7 linked regions of the Homo sapiens genome follow. The protein of the gene in region 5 purifies or fractionates together with the protein of the main gene of each other region. This does not show direct contact. Each region holds a gene or a part of one and is shown on either strand. Other genes may lie near its edges. The genes, in order: ZNF627, ZNF146, ZNF865, ZNF101, KAZALD1, ZNF709 and XPNPEP3.

Region 1 (3,500 bases), on a different chromosome or scaffold from region 5:
AAAGTTTGGAAAAATTGCAGCCTGACAATGGAACAGAAAAAAAAACCCAGCCAGGCGTGGTGGCTCATGCCTGTAATCCAGCACCTTGGGAGGCTGAGGCAGGCGGATAACCTGAGGTCAGGAGTTTGAGAGCAGCCTGAGCAACATAGAGAAACCCCTTCTCTACTAAATATATAGAATTAGCTGGCCGTGGTGGCACATGCCTGTAATCCCAGCTACTCGGGAGGCTGAGGCAGGAGAATCGCTTGATCCTGGGAGGTGGAGGTTGTAGTGAGCCAAGATTGCGCCATTGCACTCCAGCCTGGGCAACAAGAGTGAAACTCTGTCTCAAAAAAAAAGAAAAGAAAAGAAAAACCCATTTTCTGGGGAGAAATTCAAACCAGCTACAGAAATTTGTGAGTAACGAGAAGCCAAATGTTAATCACCAAGACAATGGAGAAAATGTCTCCAGGACACATCACAGACCTTCATGGCAGCCCCTCCCATCACAGGCCTAGAATCCTAAAAGGAAAAAATGGTTGGTTTCCTGGGCCTGGTCCAGGGCCCCTTGCTGTATGCACCCTAGGGACTTGGTTCCCTGTGCCCAGCCACTCCAGCCATTGCTAAAAGGAGGCAAGGTACAATTCGGGTCATGGCTTCGGAGGGTGCAAGCCCCAAGCCACAGCAGCTGCCATGTGGTGTTGGTCCTGTGGGTGCACAGAAGACAAGAATTGAGGTTTGGGAACCTCTGCCGAGATTTCAGAAGATGTACAAAAACGCCTGGGTGTCCAGGCAGAGGTGTGCTACAGGGGCGGAGCCCTCATGGAGAACCTCTGCTAGGGCAGCGCAGAAGAGAAATGTGGGAACTGGAGCCCCCACAGAGAGTCCCCACTGTGGCACTGCCTAGTAGAGCTGTGAGGAGAGGGCCACCATCCGTCCTCAAGAACCCCAGAATGGTCAATCCACTGACAGTTTGCACCACGCACCTGGAAAAGCCACAGACACTCAGTGCCAGCTGTGAAAGCAGCCAGGAGTGGGGGCTGTACCTTGCAAAGCCACAGGGGCAGAGGTGCCCAAGGTTGAGGGAGCCCACCTCTTGCATCAGCATGACCTGGATGTGAGACGTGGAGTCAAAGGAGATTCTTTTTTTCTTTCTTTTTTTTTTTTGAGACAGAGTCTGGCTCTATCACCCAGACTGGAGTGCAGTGGCATGATCTCGGCTCACTGGAACCTCCGCCTTCTGGGATCAAGCAATTCTCCTGCCTCAGCCTCCCGAGTAGCTGGGATTACAGGCGCGTGCCACCATGCCTAATTTTTTGTATTTTTAATACAGACAGGGTTTCACCATGTTAGCCAGGATGGTCTTGATCTCCTGACCTCATGATCCGCTTGCCTCGGCCTCCCAAAGTGCTGGGATTACAGGTGTGAGCCACCGCGCCTGGCCAAGGAGATTATGTCAAAGCTTTAAGATTTAATTACTGCCCTACTGGATTTGGGACTTGCATAGGGCCTCTAGCCCCTTTGTTTTGGCCAATTTCTCCCATTTGGAATGGGTATATTTACCCAATGACTGTATCTAGGAAGTAGCTAACTTGTTTTTGATTTTACAGGCTCATAGGCAGAAGGGACTTGCCTTGTCTCAGATGAGTTTGGACTTGTACTTTTGAGTTAATGCTGGAATGATTTAAGACTTTGGGGGACTGTTGGGAGGGCATGATTGTTTTAAAATGTGAGGATATGAGATTTGGGAGGGGCTGGGGGTGGAATGATATGGTTTGGCTGTGTCCCCACCCAAATCTCCTCTTGTAGTTCCCATAATCCCTGAATGTCATGGGAGAGAGCAAGTGGGAGATAATTTAATCATTGGGGTGGTTACCTCCATGTTGTTCTCATAATAGTGAGTTCTCATGAGATCTGGTTTTATAATGGGCTTCCCCCACCTTTCCCCCACCTTTAGTCTGCACTTCTCCTTGCTGCTGCCATGTGAAGAAGGACATGTTTGCTTCCCTTCCACCATACTTGTAAGTTTCCTGAGGCCTCCCCAGCCATACTGACCTGTCAATGAAATCTCTTTCCTTTATAAATTACCCAGTCTTGGGTATGTCTTTATTAGCAGCATGAAAACAGACTAATACAGAGCCCTGGGAAAAACTAGGCTGAAGAGGCTGGGCACGGTGGCTCATGAGGTCAGGAGTTCAAGACCACCCTGGCCAAGATGGTGAAACCTTGTCTCTACTAAAAATACAAAAAAAAATTAGTCAGGCCTGGTGGTGGGCACCTGTAACCCCAGCTACTTGGGAGGCTGAGGCAGAGAATTGCTTGAACCTGGGAGGCAGAGGTTGCAGTGAGCCATGATCGCACCACTGCACTCCAGCCTGGGTGACAGAGCAAGACTCCATCTCAAAAAAAAAAAAAAAAAAAAAGAAAGAAAGAAAAACTAGGCTGAAGAGGTCTCAAGTACTCCTTCCTTCACCAAACTTGAGTCAAGCTCCTCAGAGCCCTCTTTTTGACTAGGGCTTGGCACTGGCCTGCAGAAGTCAGTTTCAGCAAGAATCCATCTAAGGTAGTTTATAGAGACTCCTCCTACCTTAATATCCAATCAAGTTCTTTTTCTCCCACCTATGAGACCCAACCAAGTTCCATTCTCTCCCTCACCTTGTACATTGGCTATAAATCCAATAATATTCCTGCTGCATTCAAGGCTGAATTCAATCTCCCTCCCCTATTACAGCTGTCATGACTCACTGCAATTGTGCTTAATAAACTTTTCCTTGACATTCTTAACAAGTTTCCAGTGCAATCTCTCTTTAACAGGGAACAAGGCTGTAAACTTGAGACCCTGGTTCATTTATCTGAAATGCATAGGGGATGACAGGCTCCCTCCCACTGGGGATGAAGGAGCTGGGAACCACACATGCCATTCTGCTGGGCCCACCCAAGTCTGAATCCATGGAGGGGGAGGGTGTCCTGAGAGTACCTCCCACCCACAAACCCAAAACACCAGGCTCAGATTTCTCTCTGGATGGCCACTCCCTGTTGTCACCCCATGATCTGGGTGAGATCCAGGATTGCAGGTGCACAACTGCCCAGAGAGAGGTCCAGGAGGTAGACTGCCTCCTACAGTGATGGGACAGGATACCTGGGAGTCCTGGCTGCCAATTCAGCCCCCACCCTGATGGAGTGTGATGGAGGGGACTGAGACTCAGGCTGCTTCTGGATAAGATGCCCCACCAGACACAGGATTTGCAAGTCGTTCTTCCACTTGGTGAATTATCTTTTCAAGTTCTTGGTGTCCTTTGAAGAACAAAAATTACCAATTTTGATGAAGTGTAAACTTTAGTTAGTAACATATTGGCTCACCAATTCTGATCATCATCATATATGATATATTGGTTCATCAATTATATGATATATATGATATCATATTTACGTACTTTGGGAGGCCAGGATGGGAGAATCACTTGAGCCAGGAGTTAGAGATCAGCCTGGACAACATAGTGAGACCCCCATCTACCAAAAAA
Region 2 (3,500 bases), on a different chromosome or scaffold from region 5:
GCACTTTATGAATTTAACTCCTTTGTGCTATGGTTCTTTGTACTCCATTTTAGAAGAAGCCTGAGAAGATGATGCACAGATAGAGAGGCACCAGGACTTGAGAGGCACCAGGACTTGGGAGGCATGTTGATCCATCTCCAGGAAAGACTGAGAAAAAGAGCGTTGAATATAAGAAAAAATACTTCCTCTGTTCTCAGATCGTATTTGTTTTAAGGCCACACCTTTTTGAAGTTTTCAGTTTGAAACACAACCTGGACTGAAATCATGAGGGAGGTTGTGTAGGAAAGAATCATCAAGGGACTTAGTTGGGAGCTTCTCTACCACAGCTTACTCCTTATGGTATTAACCCCCTTTAAGTGTAAATGTCTTTGGTTTAAAACGTTTGTACCTCATCTGTTACCAGAGTGTTCATACTGGAGAGAAACCCTATGAATTTACTGAATGTGGGGGAACTGTTACTCATATGTTGCATTTCGTCGAACGTGCAAGTCATGCTGAAGAGAAACCCTGTGCTTCTAAGGAGTATTGACAAGCCCTTAGCTAGATGACAATCTCATTGAGAAGCAGAAAATTCATGCTGGAGAGAAACTAGTGAAGGTAGCAATACTTCATTGAATATTAGAAAATTTTTCTAGAGAGAAAGCATTGAATATACTGAGTATGATAACATTTCCTCTCAAACCTTATCCCTTACTCTGCATTTGGGAGATCATACACAGAGAAGCCTTATAAATGTAAGAGATGTGGAAATATCTTCAGCCAAAAGTAAATCCTCACTCATCAAGAAATTTTTACTGGAGAGAAACCTTGTGAATGTGGGAAAGCTTCCATTCAGATGTCACACCTCAGCCAGCAGAGAATTTACAGTGGGGAAAACCCCTTTGCCTGTAAGGTATGTGGAAAAGTCTTCAGCCACAAATCAAACCTCACTGAGCATGAGCATTTTCACACGAGAGAGAAACCTTTTGAATGTAACGAGTGTGGAAAAGCCTTTAGCCAAAAGCAGTATGTCATTAAACATCAGAACACCCATACTGGCGAGAAGCTTTTCGAATGTAATGAATGTGGAAAATCATTTAGCCAGAAGGAAAACCTCCTTACGCACCAGAAAATTCACACTGGAGAAAAACCTTTTGAGTGTAAAGATTGCGGGAAAGCTTTCATTCAGAAGTCAAACCTCATCAGACACCAGAGAACTCACACAGGAGAGAAGCCCTTTGTATGTAAGGAGTGTGGAAAAACCTTCAGTGGCAAATCCAACCTTACTGAGCATGAGAAAATCCATATTGGAGAGAAGCCTTTTAAATGTAGTGAATGTGGAACAGCCTTTGGCCAGAAGAAGTACCTCATAAAACATCAGAACATTCACACTGGAGAGAAACCCTATGAATGTAACGAATGTGGAAAAGCCTTCTCTCAGCGAACATCACTTATTGTACATGTGAGGATTCATTCAGGTGATAAACCTTACGAATGCAATGTTTGTGGAAAAGCCTTCTCTCAGAGCTCATCTCTCACTGTGCATGTGAGAAGCCATACAGGGGAGAAGCCCTATGGTTGTAATGAATGTGGGAAAGCTTTCTCTCAGTTCTCAACCCTTGCTCTGCATTTGAGAATACACACAGGTAAGAAGCCTTATCAGTGCAGTGAATGTGGGAAAGCTTTCAGCCAGAAGTCACACCACATTAGACACCAGAAAATTCATACTCACTAAAAACCCCATGAAAGCCTTGAAAGTGGGAAAGCTTTCATTAGAAATTTGCACCTCATCATGCCCCAGAAATAATCCTTCTGAAGCAAAGCACCACGAATGAGGTTAACTTTAACAAGTACTAAAAACTTAAGGGACACCAGAAAATTTGTACTGAAGAGAAAGACATGCATATGATTAAAACCCTGTGTCCAACAGAGAAACCTGCAGCAGAGATAATGGTGAAAGTTTAGGCACATTTTCACTAAAAGTGGGAACAGAAAATGGAGGCCTGTTTTTTATTGCTACCACCATAGATCTGGAGATCTTCGCCAGTAACAAGAAAAATTAAGTTGTAAATATTGGAAAGGAACAGACAAAAATAGATGACATGGTCATCTACAACTAATATTAAGACTCCTGTGGTATTGATTGAGCAGAGCAGAAGAGATTTCAAAAAAAGACCTATGCATTTATTAGAATTTGGAATATGATACAAGTGGCATCAGGAAATGAGGAAATAATGGAACTATTTTTTTTAAGTGGAGGTAGTTTGTTCTCCAAGGGGGAAAAATAGACCATGAACTATACACAAAAGTGAATCCAGAGATTAAAAACAGAAATATGGAAAAGCTATGTACTAAAATGCATATGACCTTGGGAATAGGGAAACATTCCTTGGAACAATTTGAGAAATACTTAGCGGTTCTACTTATGAGTATGAATGCTCAGGAAATACGCACTAGGATATTTACTGTGGCTTGATTTGTAGTAGCCAAAAATTAGAAACAACTGAGAAAGCCCATCACGAACAATATGGGAAATTCTTATGTAATACTATATATCTGTAAAATGCAACAAATGAAATCCACATGTATTAACAGAAAGATCCCAGAATTGTTGAGGGGGGATCAAGTTGCAGAATGATACAGATAGTACAATGACTTTTTTGTAAATTTGAATTAAAAGTTTCCTCATAAAACTCAGTACTATCTATTGGTAATGGATGCATATATGTATGTACATGTTTTTGAAACGGATTGGAAGGATACAGACCAAACTCTTGATAGTGGTCACCTGTGAAGAGTGGAGAAGGGAAAATAATGAGTGTGGGAGGTGGGATGGGTATTGGTTAAAGGGGACTTCAGCTTTTTATATAAACATCCACTTCTCTTTCAAAAGACTTCAAGTAAATATAAGAAGATACTGATTGATTCTGGATTGTGGTATAGGGATATCTTGTCTTATTTTTTGTACTTTTCTGTATTTTTAAAATTTCTCAAAATAGGAATGGGAGTGAGGATGGGAATGCTGTATCTGTGGAAGTCATGTTATACTGGATTCATTTCCAATTAAATACTAAACATTTTATAGAAAATATTTCTAAAATTTTATCACGGATGAATGGATGGACTTGCTCTCTATGTAATATGAAATTAATCTATTTTATTAAAATTTAAAAGGACAGCACAATCCAAATCTGTTTTAATTATTTTAACATGGCATACACACTATATCGGGGTCCCCAGCTCCCCCCAGCTGCATGGCAGGAGGTGAGTGGCGGGTGAGCGAGCATTGCCACCTGAGCTCCACCTCCTGCCAGATCAGCGGTGGCATTAGTTCTCATAGGAGCGCGAACCCTATTGGGAACTGTGCATGTGAGGAATCCAGGTTGTGCGCTTCTTATGAGAATGTAACGCCTGATGATCTGAGGTGGAACAGTTTCATCCTGAAAACATCCCATCCCCATTCTTCTACCCCCACAAACCGTCCGTGGAAAAATTGTCTTCCATGAAACAGGTCCCTGGTA
Region 3 (4,299 bases), on a different chromosome or scaffold from region 5:
GCCAGCATATTTAGCTAATTTTTTTTTTTTGAGACGGAGTCTTGCTGTCGTCCAGGCTGGAGTGCAGTGGGGCAATCTGGCTCACTGCAACCTCTGCCTCCCGGGTTCAAGCAGTTCTCTCCCTCAGCCTCCCGAGTAGCTGGAATTACAGGCGCCCGCCACCACGCCTGGCTAATTTTTGTAATTTTAGTAGAGACGGGGTTTCACCATCTTGGCCAGGCTGGTCTTGACCTCCTGACCTCGTGATCCACCCGCCTCGGCCTCCCAAAGTGCTGGGATTACAGGCGTGAGCCACCGCGTCCAGCCTAATTTTTGTATTTTTTTTTTTTGTAGAGACGGGGTTTTGCCATATTGCCCAGGCTGGTCTTGAACTCCTGTGCTCAAGCAATCCGCCTGCCTTGGCCTCCCAAAGTGCTGGGATTACAGGCGTGAGCCACCACGCCAGGCCAAGAGAACGGATTTTAAGGTGAGGGGCGGAGCTTATAATAATTCAGCTCTGAGGTGGGCGTGGTTCAGGGCCGAGGGCCGGGGGCCGGGGCTTAAAGGAGAAACTCTGAGGGAACAGGGTATTGGAGGTGGGACTTAGAAGGTGCTGATGGGGGCGCACGACTGCTATGGAGGCGATGGGGAGAGAAGGAAGTACTTAATCTAAGGGAAGTTCCTGGGAGAGTGGAAGCTTAGCAGGAGGGGCTGAATGGGTCTGGGTTTGGCTGTTTGGGATGGGGCTGAGTTGGGAGCCGGGATTATAGCGATTATATGAGCGGGCAGTGTCAAGTGTGGTAAATCCATGGCTCTTGACCAGCATGCAGCAGAATCAGAGTATTTCAAAACACGGATCCCTAGACCCCCAACCCCAGGGCTTCTATTCCGCATGGTCTGAGCAGGCAGCCGGATGCTGCTGGCCTCCCAACTATCCTTGACAACCACCGATTTAAAAGAATGCTTTAGAGGTGGGAGGCACTCAAAAGTCACGAGGTGCAACTTAAATGCTATGGGGTGAAGGGGCGGGGCTTGGATGGAGGGGGCGGGGCCTAGGGAGGGGTGAAGTTCCAGAGAGTGGGAGCTTGGAGAGGGGGAAGAACAGGAGAAACTGCATGAGGGCGAGGGGACGAAGACAGACTTTGAGGCAGTAGGGGGCTTATAATCACGCTGTGAGATGGGCGTGGTTCAGGGCCAGGGGGCGGGGCTTCAGTGTGAGACCCGAGCCGGAGGTGTGGCTTAACCGGACGCCCAGAGCGTGTCGCGGGGTTCCCGTAGAAGAGGCGGGCATTCAAAGCGCAGGCGCACCTGGCTCAGTTCGCCCACCGGAATCGGCCCGGGCTTTCACTGCTCGCGTCCCCGAGTCAGTGCGCAAGCGCATTTCCCCCCTCCTGGTCCCCGCCACCGCCTCCTCTTTCCGATCCTCCACGCCGGCGCCTCGGGAACGGGCGCGACTTCCGCTTCCGGGCGGGCGGGCAGGCGGGCGGTGCGGGGCTGCCGGGGAGGGGGGAGGGGGCGGCACTTCCGGTCGGGCCCTCGGGTCTCCCCGGAGCGGCGGCGCCTCCTCCGCCTCCTCGGCCTCCTCCCGGCGGAGACCCCGGCGCCGGTGAGTGACGGGGTGCGTGGCCCGGGGGCCCGGGTGCAGCGGGGGCGGGGGGCCCCGCCCTGGCCCGCTGTGGTCCCCAGAACGTCCCCCAACCCCTAGCAAGTCAGTGCAGCTCCCGCCGGGCCCTTGCCAAGGGACCCCCAATCACTGCTCCCCGGTAGGATCACTGCAGATAGCTCCCCCATGAACGCCCCCAGCTAGGATGGCTGCCAAAGCGCTTTCATTCGTGGCGATCCCCTAAACGGCTGCCAGGGCCCCCAAATGATACCTCCTCGTAGGATCCCCTCCACATAGCGCTCCCCGTCATTGCTTCCTCCAGGTCAGCCTCCAGATGCCATCAGCATTGCCCCTCCCCATGTAGGGCAGCTGCTCGTGAACCCTCTTATTAGTATCCTCTATATAATTCTCCCCAGAGTGTTTCCTTAGTGCCTTGCAGCAGAACTGTCCCCCGTTATCTCTGTCCATACAGCAACAGCCCCCAATGGCCCTGACCACCTCCCTCCCCAGCAGAACGCCCCTTCGTGGGTGTGAAAATACTTTCTATTCTGGTCAGCACCAAGAATGCCTTTTTCCCTTCTGCAGGTCCTCCAGTGATTCCCCTTAAGAATGCCCCTTTCAAAGCCACCCCCCCATCGCAGCGGCACAGCTCCCTCTAGAGTTCCTTCACACTCACATCCTCTCCCGCCTCAGGTAGAAATATCCGCCTGCTTAGCTCCAGGCTCCCATGACATACTCCCGTACCTCCTCTCACCCCACCCTCATCGCGGTCAGCCCGTCTTCATTACTTCTGCCACAGAACAGTGTCCCGCAGTGAGGCGGTGAAGCCTTCCTTCCCAGAATGTGCCTCATCCTCTTCCTATGGCGTGAACAACTGTTGCCCTGACCTGCAGCTTCTCACCCAGCTCTCAGGCTATCGTCCTGGACTCCCTAGGGAAGACCCTGGACTTCACTAGGGTGTGACTTCTTTTCTCGTAGGCATTCCTTCTGCGTTGAACGCATATTCACTATTCTAGCTGAAGGGTATAATATACAGCCACGAAGGGGGTCGATACACACAGTGTTCTCACTGTGCGGGGTCTCACAGTCTAGTTGATCAGACACGAGTCGACAAAGATACACGGGGTTTTGTGGGTTCTCTGAGAGCCTGATGAACTACTTTAGAGGTGAAAGCTGAATTACAAGTGGCAGCTTAGCCATGCAAAGATCTGGGTGAGCAGGCAGCAAGAACAACAAGTGCAAAGGCCCTGAAGTGGCGGTGAGCACGGTGAGTGGAGGAGCAGCAGGGGAGGCCGGTGAGGGTGGAGTGGAAGATTTGAAGGCAAGAACAAGAGGAAGGAAGCTTTGGTCTCAAAAGGCTTTGGAGGTGAGGGCACTGGGATAAATTATCTAGCCTTTGTCAGCTCTACCGAGCCCAGAATGTTCTTCATTCATTCATACGTTCATTCGTAAACACTGGTTGAACAACTGTTTAATGAGCACCTACTTTACATTGGGGGTACAACAGAGAACAAAATAGACAAGAATCCCTGTCCTCATGGAGTGGATATGCTAGTTGAGGGGGCAGATGATTAAAAGACAAAATACAGGCCAGGCGAGGTGGCTCATGCCTGTAATCCCAGCAGTTGGGAAGGCCAAAGTGGGAGGATCGCTGGAGGCCAGGAGTTCAAGACCAACCTCGGCAACATAGTGAGACCCTGTCTTTACAGGAAAAAAAAAAAAAAAAAAAAAAAGCTGGGTGTGGTTGGTGGGCACCTGTAGTCCCCAGCTATTCAGGAGGCTGAGGTGGGAGGGCTGCTTGAGCCCAGGAGTTCGAGGCTGCAGTGAAAAAAAATAAAAACAAAAACCAAGAGTATATGTGCGTGTTCAGAATATCACGGGATAAAGAGATAGACCTGGGGGGCTGTGGTTCAGGATGGCCTCCCCCAGGATTTTCCTATGTCTTGTCATCTTGTCCCTCCCAAAAGCCACACACCAAAAAGTTATACAAGAGTAAAAATTCCCCTTCTCCTGGACAACTGTGGCCCACTTGGGGGCTGCTCTTAACAGCGCCCTAACCCCAGGAGCGAAGTGATTGGGAGGATGAGCCCTGGATTCCACTAGGGTTCACAGCTTTGAGCAAATCACTCCCTCCTTTCCTAGCCTCATTCATTCACTTCTTCAAACAAAAATGTATCAAGCCAGGAACTGTTGTAGGTCCTGGGGATGGAACAGTGAGCAAGAGATAAAAATCCTTGCCTTCAGGAAGCCGATCATCTGGATGGGGAGACCAACAAAATCAAGGCAAAGAAGTAGATTATGTGAGGTTATAAATGATGCTGAGCAGTAAGGAGAGAAATGAAGCAGGGTTAGGGAGATGAGGATGTGGGCCTGGGTGACAGGTCATTGGTTACTGAGAGGCTCATTGAGAAGACAGTTGACCAAAGATGGGGAGGAGGTGAAGGGGTGAGCGAGATGGTTGCCTGAGAGTCAGAATATTACAGGCAACAGCAACAGCCAGCGCAAAGGCCCTGCAGCAGGAATAGAGTGGGCACATGGGAAGAGCAGCCAGGAGACTGTGGAGGTCATTGTAAGGACTGTGGCTTTTTTTTTTTTTTTTTTTGAAAAGGAGTTTCGCTCTTGTTGCCCAGGCTGGAGTGCAGTGGTGTGATCTTAGCTCGCTGCAACCTCCGCCTCCCGGGTTCAAGTGATTCTCCTGCCTCAGCCTCCCGAGTAGC
Region 4 (3,500 bases), on a different chromosome or scaffold from region 5:
ATTCACGAGACATTTTCAGACTTCAAGAAAAATTTCAGTAGGCTTTGTTCTTTTCTAAAAATTGACTTCAACGGCTTGTAACAGCAATTCAAGATGAACTGAGGGCAGGAACACTGGCAAACACCTGTAATTCTAGGTACTTGAGAGGCTGAGGCGGGAGAATCGATTTAGCCCAGGAGTTCAAGTCCAGCCTGGGCAATATAGTGAGACCCCCATCTTAAAAAATGTGTGTGTGTATATATATATATATATAAATTATATGTATGATTATATATATATTTATAAGTTGTATGATTATATATATTTATAAATTTTATGTATGATTATATATATATTTATAAATTTATTTATTTTATTTTTTTACTTTCGAGACAAAGTCTTGCCCTGTTGCCCAGGCTGGAGTGCAATGGTACAATCTTGGCTCACTACAACCTCCGCTAAAGTGATTCTCCTGCCTCAGCCCTCCCCCACGCCCGGTAGCTGAACCCGGTAGCTGAATCCTGAGTAGCTGGGATTACAGGTGCCCTCCACCACACCTAGCTAATTTTTTTTAGCTTTAGTAGAGACAGGGTTTCGCCATGTTGGCCAGGCTGGTCTCGAACTCCTGACCTCATGGTCCTCCTGCGTCGGCCTCCCATAGTGTTGGGATTACAGGCGTGAACCATCACATTCAGCCCTATATGCATTTTAGAACGGGCTTTTTTTTTGGCGGGGGGGGTCTCTGTTGCCCAGGCTGGAGTGCGGTGGCACGATCTCAGCTCATTGCAACCTCTGCCTCCCAGGTTCAAACGATTTTCCTGCCTCAGCCTCCCAAGTACCTGGGATTACAGGCACCTGCCACCACGCCCAGCCAATTTTTTGTATTTTTAGTAGACACGGGGTTTCAACATGTTGGCTAGGCCAGTCTGAAACTCCTGAGCTCAGGCAATCCTCCCACTTCGACCTCCCAAAGTGTTGGGATTATAGGCATGAGCCACTGTGACTGGCTGGTATTTTTATTTCTGAAAAAAGAAAACAAAACAAAAAAAACCAGACATGGGATTTTGATAGGGATTGTATTGAATTTGCAGATCATTTTGGGTAGTAGTACCTTCCAAATAATGTAAAGTCTTTTTTTTTTCTTTGACACAGAGTCTTGCTCTATCACCCAGACTGGAATGCAGTGGCACGGTCTTGACTCACTGCAACCTCCACTTCCTGGTTTCAAGCCATTCTCCTGCCTCAGCCTTCTGAGTAGCTGGGACTACAAGCGCATGCCACCACGCCTGGCTAATTTTTTTTTTTGTATTCTTAGTAGAGATGGGATTTTACCATGTTGGCCAGGCTGGTCTCAAACTCCTGACCTCAGGTGATTTGCCTGCCTTGGCCTCCCAAAGTGGTGGGATTACAGATATGAGCCAATGTGCTGGCTTTTTTTTTTTTTTTTTTTGAATTGGAGTCTTGCTCTGTCGCCGAGGCTGGGGTTCAGTGGCATGATCTCGGCTCACTGCAACCTCCACCTTCTGGGTTCAAGCAGTTCTTCTGTCTCAGTCTCCGGAGTAGCTGGGATTACAGGCACGTGCCACCACACCTGGCTAATTTTTGTATTTTCAGTAGAGACAGGGTTTCATCATGTTAGCCAGGCTGGTCTTGAACTCCTGACCTTGTAATCCACCCACCTCGGCCTCCCAAAGTGCTAGGGTTGCAGGCATGAGCCACCGCACCTGGCCAAATAATGTAAAGTCTTCGAACACATGAACACAAGATATTTTTCAATTTGTCTTTAATTTCATTCAGCAACATTTTGTTGTTTTTAGTGTACAAGTAGTCTTTCGACTTCTTGGTTTTGTAATTTCTAAGCGTTCAATTCTTTTTTTTTTTTTTTTTTTTTTTGAGACAGAGTCTCACTCTGTCGCCCAGTCTGGGCTATTTGGTGTCCTGGGTTTTATATTTGTTGAGGCTTTTTAAATTATTATTATTATTATTATTATTTTGAGATGGAGTCTTGCTTTGTTGCCCAGGATGGAGTGCAGTGGTGCGATCTCAGCTCACTGCAACCTCTGTCTCCTGAGTTCAAGCGATTCTCCTGCCTCAGCCTCCCAAGTAGTTGGGATTACAGGTGCCTGCCACCGCGCCCGACTAATTTTTGTATTTTTAGTAGAGACGGGGTTTCACCATCTTGGCCAGGCTGGTCTTGAACTCCTAACCTTTTGATCCACCTGCCTTTGCCTCCCAAAGTGCTGGGATTACAGATGTGAGTCACCGCGCCTGGCCTATTCAATTCTTTTTGGTGCTATTGTTTGTGGTATTGTTTTCTTAATTTCTTTTTCACATTATTCAGTTTTGGTGCATATAAATGTAGCTGACTTTTTTGGTCTTGAGACAGTCTACCTCTGTTGCCCAGACTGGAGTACAATGGTGTGATCTCAGCTCACTGCAACCTCTGCCTCCTGGGTTCAAGTGATTCTCCTGCCTTAGCCTCTCGAGTAGCTGGGACTACAGGTGTGGGCTACCACACCTGGCTGATTGTGTATTTTTAGTAGAGATGGGGTTTCACCATGCTGGTCAGGCTGGTCTTGAACTTCTCACCTCAAGTGATCTACTCGCCTCGACCTCCCGAAGTGCTGGGATTACAGGCGTGAGCCACCGCACCCAGCCCCATTGTTTTTCATATTTGAACCATCCTTGCATTTTGCGGATAAATCTCTCTTGATGATGTCATATAATCCTTTAAATATGCTGTCAGGTATGATTTGCTAGCATTTATTTGAGGATTTTTTGCATTGATATTCATAAAGGGCATTTGTAGTTTTGTTTTTTGTAGTGTCTGTCTTTGGTGTCAGCATAATTTTGACCTCATAGAGGGAGTTTGGAAATGTCCCCTCTTCAGTTTTGGAAGAGTTTGAGGAGGATTGATAGCAATTCTTTTTTAAATTTTTGGTGGATTTCAGCAGTGAAACTATTTGGTGTCCTGGGTTTTGTATTCGTTGAGGTTTTTAAAATTATTATTATTATTATTTTGAGATGGAGTCTCGTTTTGTCGCCCAGGATGGAGTGCAGTGGCGCCATCTCGGCTCACTGCAACCTCTGCCTCCCAGGTTCATGCCATTGTCCTGCCTCAACCTCCCCAGTAGCTGGGACTACAGGTGCCTGCCTCCATGCCAGCCTACTTTTTTGCGTTTTTAGTAGAGACGGGGTTTCACCGTGTTAGCCAGGATGGTCTCAATTTCCTGACCTTGTGATCCACCCTCCTCTGCCTCCCAAAGTGCTGAGGTTACAGGCATGAGCCACCGCGCCCAGCCAATTTATTATTTTTCTTAATTTATTTTATTTTTTTGAGATGGAGTTTCACTCTTGTTGCCCAGGCTGGAGTGTAATGGCATGATCTCGGCTCACTGCAACCTCCGCCTCCCGGGTTCATGGGATTCTCCTGCCTCTGCCTCCCAAGTAGCTGGGATTACCGGCGTCCACCACCATGCCCAGGTAATTTTTTGTATTTTTAGTAGAGACGGAGTTTCACC
Region 5 (3,951 bases):
CCGGGAGAGAGTGTCTGCCCTTGCCCACCTCCTCAGAACCCCTCTGGCCAGGGATGGCGCCTACGTGGCTCGGGAGCCCCTGAATGAATGGGCTTGGCCCAACTTAGGGGCGCATTCCGACGGGAGAGTCCTGGCTGTATTCCGAGGCTCCAGTGCGCATGCGGAGTCGATCCCGCGCAGGCGGGCGGGGACGGCAGCCGGGTCTTGTGGGCGGAGCCTGACTAAGTGCCGCCCCCTTGCCGGCTGCAGATTGCTATTTCTGCCCCCCACCCTCGCCCATCCCCCCGCGAGCTGGACTGCGCCAAGGCTTCTGTGAGCCGCTTGGGGCCGGCCGGGGCGGGGCCTGCCCGACCCGGGTTTGGCTGGCGGGCCCCTAGGAATGCTCTCCTCCCCGCCCCCGGCCCAAAGTGCCACGGTGGCGGTGGTGGCGGCCGCGAGGCCGAGTGTCTCCGGCCCTGCCAGCCTCGCAACCGTAACCTGTAATCCCGACCCGAGGGACGCCCGCCGGGGAGGCGCCAGCCCGCCTCTCCCTGCGGCCGCTGGTCGGCTCCGACCTCGAATCACCCGGCTCACCCGCGGGTCGCAGCACCTGCCGGATGTGGGGAGGAAGAAGGAGGCCAGATGAGGGAAGGCGGATGTAGGCGCCCAGTCTGTCCGCGCCTTGGTGGGGCAGCTGGGTGGGCAAGCCTGCGGTCGCTCCCGGGAACCAGCCCTGGGCTGCGGGGAGACGAAGGTGGTTGGTCCTGCCCTCCAGGAGCGCCCCGACATCGACGTAAAATGACTTGGCACCAGAGCTCCTGCCGCCTCCCCCTTATGCAGCTGCCCTCGCCGACGCCAGGGACTGTAAAATCAGATGGGACAGGGCCTAGCCGTTCAGCCAACACTTTGAGCTTCCCAGCCAAACTCCTACCCCCACTCCCCGCCTCCGGTCCTCACCCCCTTCCTCTCTCCCAGCCTCGGTGTCTGGTTACGGCTCCTCTGCTCGCATTGTGACTTTGGGCCAGGCTGGGGGAAATGACCCGGGAGGGTCCCATGCGGCTACATAAAATTGGCAGCCTTAGAACTAGTGGGAAGGCGGGTGCGCGAAGTCGAGGGGCGGAGAGAGGGGGCCGGAGGAGCTGCTTTCTGAATCCAAGTTCGTGGGCTCTCTCAGAAGTCCTCAGGACGGAGCAGAGGTGGCCGGCGGGCCCGGCTGACTGCGCCTCTGCTTTCTTTCCATAACCTTTTCTTTCGGACTCGAATCACGGCTGCTGCGAAGGGTCTAGTTCCGGACACTAGGTGAGCACTCTGTGCCCCAGGCCATAAGCGAGGCGGCATCAGCCCCCCCAGTTCTCACCCCCCATTAGCAGCTTCTTACTTCTGGAGCCACCCATTCTCTTTGGGCAAGGATGCTCAGGGGCCAGGGATCGGAGTCGGGTGGTGCACGGAAGTGGTGCTGGTGGTGGGTGTGCGTGCGCCTGAGCCTTATCACCCTTTCCTCACCTCTCTTCACTCCCAGCCCTCCCAAGAACAGCCCAACTGATTGCTAACTGCCATAACTGGATAATCCCTAGAGGGTCACTAGGCCTGTGTGTTGGGGGAGGCTACTTGGTAGCAGGGGAGGGGGCGATGCTAGTGTCATGCTTTGGTACAAGAAGCAGTGAGGTTGGTCTTTCGGCACAGGCCCTGTTTCTGACCTCCTGACCTGGCTTCCCTTCCTGGCAGGGTGCCCGAACGCGCTGATGCCCCGAGTGCTCGCAGGGCTTCCCGCTAACCATGCTGCCGCCGCCGCGGCCCGCAGCTGCCTTGGCGCTGCCTGTGCTCCTGCTACTGCTGGTGGTGCTGACGCCGCCCCCGACCGGCGCAAGGCCATCCCCAGGCCCAGATTACCTGCGGCGCGGCTGGATGCGGCTGCTAGCGGAGGGCGAGGGCTGCGCTCCCTGCCGGCCAGAAGAGTGCGCCGCGCCGCGGGGCTGCCTGGCGGGCAGGGTGCGCGACGCGTGCGGCTGCTGCTGGGAATGCGCCAACCTCGAGGGCCAGCTCTGCGACCTGGACCCCAGTGCTCACTTCTACGGGCACTGCGGCGAGCAGCTTGAGTGCCGGCTGGACACAGGCGGCGACCTGAGCCGCGGAGAGGTGCCGGAACCTCTGTGTGCCTGTCGTTCGCAGAGTCCGCTCTGCGGGTCCGACGGTCACACCTACTCCCAGATCTGCCGCCTGCAGGAGGCGGCCCGCGCTCGGCCCGATGCCAACCTCACTGTGGCACACCCGGGGCCCTGCGAATCGGGTACGCATGGCCCGGGGCCCCCACCCCAGCACTTAGGTTTCCTAGAGGCACTGCTCCCCGACCCCTGACAGCATTGGTCTCTGGCCAGCAGAGCAAAAAAGATAAGGCTATAGAGGCCTCGAGTCCAGTATAAAACCCTGCTCTCGCTACTGGTTCATAAAAGCTGCCACCTTAAGGTGGGGGTGGGGGGTGGAGTGGAGTGGGAGTCCCGGGCTTCGTCAGCAAGCTGCATTCGCTGAACCACGTGAAAGCTCCAGAGCTGGCTGGCAGGGAGAGACAGGTCCTCTGAGGGCGCAGGCACATAACCTATGGTTTGCTCAGAGACCCCCCCGACTTTTCCCAGACCAGTGGAGTCCAGGCAGCAAGACGGGTTCCTGTGAGATGCAATCACGTTTCATTCTTAGAGCAGTTTGTTCACCCAGTCTCCCCACCTCTCTGCTTTCTCCTGCTTTTAGGGATTAGTGAAGGGGAGCGGGAAGTTCTTTCTCTATCCCTGGGGACTGGGGTCCATTCAGGCCTCTAGCTTTCCTTGGTAGCTTTAGTAACTTTCACTTCCTGAGCCCGGGCTCTGCGTCTGGCTCGGCTGGGGCAGCCAGAAAACAAACACCCCGTGGGGGTCCCAGCAATTTCCTCCACTCCTGCAGGCTTCCTGCCTGTCGCACAAGTCCAGCTTCAGGTTCTCTGCCTTGCCGCAGGACTCCCCCAGGGGGTACTGAGGAGGGAACGGCTGCTTTTCCTCCTTTGGGAACTGGGCCTGTTTAGAAAAGGGGAAGGGGGATCTGGAAGGTTTTGATTACAGGCACGCAGGAAAGGCTGGGGAGGGTGAAATGAGGACAGGGGAGCAGTTAGGGACAGAGTGGCTGCCAAGCTACAATGTAGATGTGTGTGCTTGTTTGTGCATTGGGTCTGCATGAGGTTCTATGTGCACATGTGCATGTATACCTATCTCCACGTCTGCGTGGTACCCTTGTGTGTACCAGCATCCATATCTGTGTGTACCTGTGTGTGTCACGGTGTGTTTATGGATGTGTATTTACCTCAGCATATATTGTGTTCTGCCACAAGCATGTCCACAAAAATTTGTGTATCATGTCTTTGCCAGACTGGATGCCTTTGCTGGGCCATGCTATTCTCAGACCTCCCGCCTTCACCCCCAGGGCCCCAGATCGTGTCACATCCATATGACACTTGGAATGTGACAGGGCAGGATGTGATCTTTGGCTGTGAAGTGTTTGCCTACCCCATGGCCTCCATCGAGTGGAGGAAGGATGGCTTGGACATCCAGCTGCCAGGGGATGACCCCCACATCTCTGTGCAGGTAGACTGGTGGGAGAGGCTTCCCTCAGGCAGCCCAGGGCCCTCCAGAAGGACCCTGCTGATTCCTTGCCTGGCTCCAGTTTAGGGGTGGACCCCAGAGGTTTGAGGTGACTGGCTGGCTGCAGATCCAGGCTGTGCGTCCCAGTGATGAGGGCACTTACCGCTGCCTTGGCCGCAATGCCCTGGGTCAAGTGGAGGCCCCTGCTAGCTTGACAGTGCTCACACCTGGTAAGGGGATTCCTGAGTTCTGGGGGTTGGGGGGATGGTGCTGGATTCCAGTTGTGAATGTGTAAGAAACAGACCATGTGTCTGTATACACAAGCATAGCCTTCCGCAGACTGGGCTATGTGGGCACCGACAGCCCCTCT
Region 6 (3,500 bases), on a different chromosome or scaffold from region 5:
TGATACTCCTTAAAGTGGTCCTGGGTAGTGTTTCTTGGCCTGGACTTATCTGTGTGTTTTAGAGTGAAGCTGTGACTGCTGCTGACCTGGCATACAAGGTGCTCATGGGAAAGACTACCTGCCAGAGCAGTCATTTTTGAAAAAGAGACAAAAGAGAGGGGGAAAGGCAGCTGTTAGATGGTGGGCCGAGTCCACACTCCTAATAGCACAGGGCTCCCAAGGACCCTTAAGTGTTGCTGCTGTTGCTCTATTGCAGCAAGGATGCTGACCCTCAGGATTATAGGGCACACTCATGTTTCCTCTGCAGCATTGCAAAGGGTTCATTCAAAGCCAGCTTAAGGCCCAGGTGCTTAAACTTTATAAAGCAACCATGAGGGACAGGCCCCTAAGCCTGATAATAGTGATTTGTGGCTCTCTGGAGGGAAAAGAACACCCCTCCCCTGTAGAGAGGATTTTGCTGTCAAAATATATCCAGGGACAAAAACAAAAACAAAACAAACATGTTAGGAAGGAAAGGAACAAAAGAAAAAAATGCTGAAAAAGAGGTCCACAATTTGACCCAATTGGAAATTCCAAATAGACTAAAGGAATTTAGACGGCAAAAAAGATAAAAGAGCCTCTATATCATAGGTTCTGTATTAATTTTAACATCTTATGTAATGTATTAATTAACACACTATAGGATTAGCCAATACAAGGGCTCAAATTATGGTTATACCTGGGAGACCCACTAAAATTTAAGCAAGGTATCCCCTGATAATCTTAAGGGAGTTACTGAATATAAAATAGAAGACAAATAAGTATGTCTCATCTTAGCCATCATAACTGTGCCTAAATTCCCCATGTTCATGGCACCCAGTGTCCTAAAATACGCCAGAATGAACAGGTAAACTCTAAACCAGTGAGTCATAAGTGAAATTTAAATTAAATCTTTGGCACTTACAAACTGGCTTGACAGAATGAGACCCTGTGGAACTTACTCCCCAGTTAAATTAGTTATGATGGCTCAATATAAATTGAACAGGGCCTTGAAGGGTTGAAAAGTATTATGTAAAACTTGTTTAGTGAGGAAGTGATTATTCCCCGTGCTTCTCGTTTTAAAAGTACAGTTTGGCCTTTCTTAAACTTGGAGAGAATGAATGGCAACCCACAATGGATTACCATAACCTTAATGCTGTGGTCCCACCCATTAAGCCCCTATACCAATATCCAACATGGAAATTACTGACACCATCCAGCTGATCTCACAGATTTCACCATCTCACAGGCTAATTATATAACTTTACCTAGTTTCCCAAGGGAACCTCAACAGCCTTGCTGTTGCACAGTCTTTGCAGGCAAAATCTGAACTGCATCCACCTTTCTCTAGAACACAGGTATGATATTACATTAATGACAGCCTTGTCTGAGGACATTGTTTTGGCATTCATTCAGGACACATAAATACTGAAAAAAAAAATAGAGCTTACAAAAAGTCCATTGCCCCATATATAAAATAAGAGACCTTTATGTTTTGGTTAAGTTCCTAAAAACCATTTGGTAAAAGGAGGGCCGCTCCATCCCTGACACTACTATGAAATAGCTATTGTCCCTCTGACTACCCACAGCATCTTCTAGGTTCTTTTGATGTTCTGGAGGCAACATATTCCTTGTTTATAAATTTTACTTAACCACTTTATGCTGTTAATTGCAAATTGGCCCACCTTAAGTGGGTCCCCCTACCGCAAAAGGCTCTAGAGTCTTTTTCATTCTCTTAACACAGAGCTTTCATAGAGAAGGAGCTTTTGCATTTTAATGAAGTCAAACTTACTGATTTATTTTGTATGGATTTTGCTTATATCTAAACATTTGTCACCAAACCCAGGGTCACCTAGATTTTCTTCATTAACTTTTAGTATCCTATAACTTTACTTTTTTTTTTTTTTTTGAGGCAAGTTCTCCCTCTTGCCCAGGCCAGAGTGCAGTAGTGCAATCTTGGCTCACTGCAGCCTCAACCTCCTGGGCTCAAGCACTCCTCCCACTTCAGCCTCCTGAGTAGGTGGGACTACAAGCGTGCACCACCACACCTGGCTAATTTTTGTATTTTTTGTAGAGATGGGGTCCTACTTAGTTGCCCAGGCTGGTCTCAAACTCCTGACTTCAAGCTATCCTCCTGCCATGGCCTCCCAGAGTGCTGGGATTACAGGCATGAGCCACTGCTCCTGGCCTAGATTTTACATTTAGTTCTGTGATCCATTTTGAGCCAGTTTTTGTTTAAGGTGTAACGTCTGTTTCTAGATTTGTGTTTTTTTCATTGTGTTTTGCATGTGGATGTTCAGTTTTTCCAACACTGTTTGTTGAAAAAGGCTATCTTTTTTCATTGAATTGCTGTTGGTCATTTGTTGAAAATCAGATGACTCAGTGAGTCTATACTATACTAATGTGAGTCTGTAAGAAGGCAATTGACTTTTGTATATTAAGATTATATCCTCAACCTCTAGTTTGAGGAGTTTGTTGTGGATTCTTTGAGATTTTCTACTTAGACAATCATGTCACATGCGACAAAGACAGTGATATTTCTTTGTTCCCAATCTATATCTCTTCTCTCCTCTCCTCCCCTCTCCTCTCATTAGTTACACTTTGAGTACAATCTGTTGAGTAGGAGTGGTAAGAGGGGACATCTTTGCCCATTTCCTCATCTTACCAGGAAAGCATCTATTTTCTCACTATTAAATATGATATTAGCTGCAGGTTTCCTATAAATACTGCTTCTCAAAAAGAGGAAAGTCTATCTCCAGTTTCTTATCATAAATGCATGTTGGATTTTGCCCATAGCTTTTTCATTTTTATTTTTCCCACTTACATTTGTGATATTAGTAATTTCTGTTCTCTGTTTTTCAGTTAGCTTAACCATACATTTATCAAATATATTGATCTTTTCAAAGAAACACCTTTGGTTTTGTTTAATTTCTCTTTTTACTATTTCTTCTGTTGTGTGCTTACTTTGGGTTTAATTTGCTCATATTTTCTTGCTTTCCTCATGTAGATGCTTAGATTTTTTTTTTTTTTTTTTTTTTTTTAAGACGGAATCTCACTCTGTTGCCCAGGCTGGAGTACAGTGGTGCGATCTTGGCTCACTGCAACCTCCGCATCCTGGGTTCAAGCGATTCTTCTGCCTCAGCCTCCCAAGTAGCTGGGACTACAGGTGCCCACCACCATGCCCGGCTAATTTTTGTATTTTTAGTAGAAACAGGGTTTTGTCACTTTGGACAGGCTGGTGTCCAACTCCCGACCTCAGGTGATCTGCCTGCCTCAGCCTCCCAAAGTGCTGGGATTACAGGTGTTAGCCACTGTGCCTGGCCAGGATTTACATCTTTTTAATATTCAGTGTCCATTTTACAAGTTATGGTAGCTATAGTCACTTTAAATACTTTCATCTTTTAGCTTTTATACTAGAGTTGAAAGTGATGTTTGTACCACCATTATGTATAAGAATATTCTGGATTTGACTATACTTTTGC
Region 7 (3,500 bases), on a different chromosome or scaffold from region 5:
TTATAATTTGCCTACCACTGGAAATAATAACCAATAATGTCGAAAATTATTTGAGTACCCTCTGAGTCACACTGTAGCAAGTGCTCATTTAACTGACACAGCACTCTAGCAAAATAAATATTTTATGCCCATAAGAAAACAGACGTTCTGAGAGAGAAAGTAATTTGTCTAAGGCTACATAGCTTGTTAGTGAAAAATCTGATTTTTAAACTTGAGTCTAATTTCAAGTTCTCATTCCACTCTACTGCATTTCTCGGACTAGGACTTAAAGAGTTTAGGTTCTAGGCATTCCACAAACAGATACTGAGAACCTGCTGTTACCGGAAAGGGGTCCCAATCCAGACCCCAAGAGATGGTTCTTGGATCTCGTGCAAGAAAGAATTTCAGTGGAATCCACAGAGTAAAGTAAAAGCAAGTTTATTAAGAAAGTAAAGGAATAAAGAATGGCTACTCCATAGGCAGAGCAGCCCCAAGGGCTGCTGGTTGCCCATTTTTATGGTTATTTCTTGATTATATCCTAAACAGGAAGTGGATTATTCATGCTTCCCCATTTCAGACCATATAGGGTAACTTCCTGACGTTGCCATGGCATCTGTAAACTCTTGGGGTGCTGGTGGGAGTGTAGCAGTGAGGACAATCAGAGGTTACTGTCATTGCCATCTTAGTTTTAGTGGGGTTTGGCCAGCTCCTTTTTTTAAGAACATCACAGGTAAAGCTCACAGGAAGGTGACAGTCTAGGAGAAGATGTTCGCAGTGTCTAAATTTGACAGGGACTTATTTTATTTTCATTATTATTGTTACTATTATTATTATTTGAGGTGGAGTTTCGCTCTTATTGCCCAGGCTGGAGTGCAATGGTGGGGTCTTGGCTCACTGCAACATCTACCTCCCGGGTTCAAGCCATTCTCCTGCCTCAGCCCGCTGAGTAGCTGGGATTACAGGCATGCACCACCACGCCCGGCTAATTTTGTATTTTTAGTAGAGAGGGGGTTTCTCCATGTTGGTCAGGCTGATCTCGAACTCCCAACCTCAGGTGATCTGCCCGCCTCAGCCTCCCAAAGCGCTGGGATTACAGGCATGAGCCACCGCACCCAGCTGGTCAGCTTCTTTACTATAACCTACCTGTTTTATTAGCAGGGTTTTTGTGTCCTGCATTTTGTGCTGACTTCCTATTTCATTCTGTGATTAAGACTGCCTTAACTTACTGGGAATGTAGCCCAGTAGGTCTTAGCCTTATTTTACCAAACCCCTACTGAAGATGGAGTTGCTCTGGTTCAAACGCCTCTGACACTATGATACAGAGAAAAGGTAGAAAATAGGAAATTCTGCTCTTAAGAAATTCATATAGTTTGAAAAAACTAATTTCAGTGGAGTGTAAAGTTATAATACGAGCACTTGTTTCTGCAGTTATACCCTTCTTTGTTGATCCTTTGCCTCCCAGCCATCCGCTGTGCCATTTTCTCTGCCTCTTCACAACAAAACTTATCCAGAGTATTGTCTCAGTGTCTTTGCTTTCTTACATCCTATTCCCTCCTTGGCATACTCCAATCTGTCTTCTGTCTTCTTTACTCTGCTAAAATCGCCAGGGTCTCCAGTGATTGATGTTACCATATCCAGTGGTTGTCCTTTTGGCTTCCTTGTATTTTGAAGCACTTGCCACACTGTGAGCCCTCCTCACTTTTTTTTTTTTTTTTTTTTGAGATGGAGTTTCACTCTCGTTGCCCAGGCTAGAGTACAGTGGTGTGATCTCGGCTCACTGCAACCTCTACTTCCCAGGTTCAAGCCATTCTCCTGCTTCAGCCTCCCGAGTAGCTGGGATTACAGGCATGTGCCACCATGCCTGGCTAATTTTGTATTTTTAGTAGAGACAGGGTTTCTCCATGTTGGTCAGGCTGGTCTCGAACTCCCGACCTCAGGTGATCCACTTGCCTCGGCCTCCCAAAGTGCTGGGATTACAGGTGTGAGCCACTGCGCCTGGCATAGTCCTCCCCACTTCTTAAAACACTTGTTTTTTAACTTCCTAAATACCACACTCTTTTTTTGTGGGGGGCGGGGGGGCAGCGGGTAGAGACAGGGTTTAGCCATGTTGGCCAGGCTGGTCCCGAACTCCTGGCCTCAAGTGATCTGTCTGCCTGCCTCGGCCTCCCAAAGTGCTGGGATTACAAGCATGAGCCACCATGCCCAGCACTAAATACTGTACTCTTCTAGTTTTCCTTCTTTCTCCTGTGCTCTTTCTCACACTAAAATATTACAGTGCCAGGCTTTGTTCAGTCTCCCTGGGTAATACCCATTCCCAGGGCTTTAGATGCCATCTGTGTGCTTATAACACCCTAATTTATATATCTAGCCTAGCACTTTTCTCCCTGAAATTAAGATTGCTCTTTGACCTCTCCATTAAATTTATTTCCAATAAATATCTCAGGCTTTCCTGTTGCATGTAGTGGTACAACCATTTATTCACTTGTTCAAGTCAAAAATCAAGAATTATTCTTAATTCCTCTTTTTTCTTTATTTCTTATGTCCAATTAGAAGCCAGACTCATTGACTTTTAACTTCAAAATACATTTCAAATCAAGTCACTGGGAAAATAAAGTCAAATAACAAGTGATCTCTGCTTCCAAAGATTGTTCATAGTAGACTGGCAAACTAATTAGCAATTATGTGAAGTGTAGTAGGTATTAAAATAGAAATCATAGGAGCGTTGGGGAAGACATCTGAAACAAGCAGAACAGAGGCAGTAGGTGTGAGAAGAGTAAGAGAAGTCTCTTGCGTAAGTGATGTTTGAGCTGGTATTTTTTAGAATTTCTGTAATCGTATAAGCAGGCAGTGTCCACTTTAGACTAAGAGAACTATATTTTTTAATGCAAATGCTATTATGATGCAGAATGATTTAGCCGGGGTTCTTCAAGTAGCTTAGTGTGGCTGCAATAATGTTTTTTGAGGATTAGGTCAGATAAGGGAGCAGGATCCAAATCATGAAGTTTCCTAAGCAAAAGAGTTTGAAGCTTATGAACTGGATATTTTTGAAATAGGACTTAACACACCAGCTTTGCTACTAATTATATGACTTCGGGCAAAAGATGTTTAATGTAAGTAAAAAGCTATTGAGACCTTTTTTAAAAATTTACTGGGAATAAACATCTTAATTTATGTCTCCTGTTAAAGTGTTACTTGTTTGCTTTGAATTTAATAAAGTTAAGCTCCCTCTGCTTGAGAGTGGTCCAAAATATGCTAGGATTATTTCATATGAGCATTGAAAAAGGAATCAGTTAACTTTTTATATTCTGAAATTTTACTGCCTAATGAGATTACAGAAGACACTATGTGTGCATGAGTACGTGTGCACGAGCGTGCATGTGGAGAAGGTGCAGGAGGAGAGAAAGAGAAATCACCAATGCAACAGCAGCCTACTCCACCAGTGGGTTAGTGCTGCTGGAGGGAGATGAAAAGATTAGGAAGGTAAGATAGCTTTGAAGGCTTTGTATTCTAAATTAAGGAGT

Evidence for each region.
Region 1: the proteins of KAZALD1 (region 5) and ZNF627 purify together in Homo sapiens (affinity purification with mass spectrometry; one large-scale study listed by BioGRID and IntAct). This does not show direct contact.
Region 2: the proteins of KAZALD1 (region 5) and ZNF146 purify together in Homo sapiens (affinity purification with mass spectrometry; one large-scale study listed by BioGRID and IntAct). This does not show direct contact.
Region 3: the proteins of KAZALD1 (region 5) and ZNF865 purify together in Homo sapiens (affinity purification with mass spectrometry; one large-scale study listed by BioGRID and IntAct). This does not show direct contact.
Region 4: the proteins of KAZALD1 (region 5) and ZNF101 purify together in Homo sapiens (affinity purification with mass spectrometry; one large-scale study listed by BioGRID and IntAct). This does not show direct contact.
Region 6: the proteins of KAZALD1 (region 5) and ZNF709 purify together in Homo sapiens (affinity purification with mass spectrometry; one large-scale study listed by BioGRID and IntAct). This does not show direct contact.
Region 7: the proteins of KAZALD1 (region 5) and XPNPEP3 purify together in Homo sapiens (affinity purification with mass spectrometry; one large-scale study listed by BioGRID and IntAct). This does not show direct contact.

Annotation. Positions count from the first base shown.
Region 1 is NC_000019.10:11,603,983-11,607,482, reverse strand, and holds part of ZNF627 (zinc finger protein 627), read right to left. Parts: intron 3,274-3,500; exon of another isoform or gene 3,119-3,273; intron 1-3,118. UniProt on the Homo sapiens protein: May be involved in transcriptional regulation.
Region 2 is NC_000019.10:36,235,606-36,239,105, forward strand, and holds the end of ZNF146 (zinc finger protein OZF), read left to right. Parts: exon of another isoform or gene 1-53; 5' UTR 54-835; coding exon 836-1,714; 3' UTR 1,715-3,163; downstream 3,164-3,500.
Region 3 is NC_000019.10:55,604,148-55,608,446, forward strand, and holds the start of ZNF865 (zinc finger protein 865), read left to right. Parts: upstream 1-1,499; 5' UTR 1,500-1,585; intron 1,586-4,299. UniProt on the Homo sapiens protein: May be involved in transcriptional regulation.
Region 4 is NC_000019.10:19,671,839-19,675,338, forward strand, and holds part of ZNF101 (zinc finger protein 101), read left to right. Parts: intron 1-3,344; exon of another isoform or gene 3,345-3,360; coding exon of another isoform or gene 3,361-3,462; intron 3,463-3,500. UniProt on the Homo sapiens protein: May be involved in transcriptional regulation.
Region 5 is NC_000010.11:101,060,838-101,064,788, forward strand, and holds the start of KAZALD1 (kazal-type serine protease inhibitor domain-containing protein 1 isoform a precursor), read left to right. Parts: upstream 1-1,151; 5' UTR 1,152-1,278; intron 1,279-1,704; 5' UTR 1,705-1,755; coding exon 1,756-2,266; intron 2,267-3,368; coding exon of another isoform or gene 3,369-3,423; coding exon 3,424-3,584; intron 3,585-3,663; coding exon 3,664-3,811; intron 3,812-3,951. UniProt on the Homo sapiens protein: Involved in the proliferation of osteoblasts during bone formation and bone regeneration. Promotes matrix assembly.
Region 6 is NC_000019.10:12,474,817-12,478,316, reverse strand, and holds part of ZNF709 (zinc finger protein 709), read left to right. Parts: intron 1-3,500.
Region 7 is NC_000022.11:40,863,648-40,867,147, forward strand, and holds part of XPNPEP3 (xaa-Pro aminopeptidase 3), read left to right. Parts: intron 1-3,500. UniProt on the Homo sapiens protein: Catalyzes the removal of a penultimate prolyl residue from the N-termini of peptides, such as Leu-Pro-Ala. Also shows low activity towards peptides with Ala or Ser at the P1 position.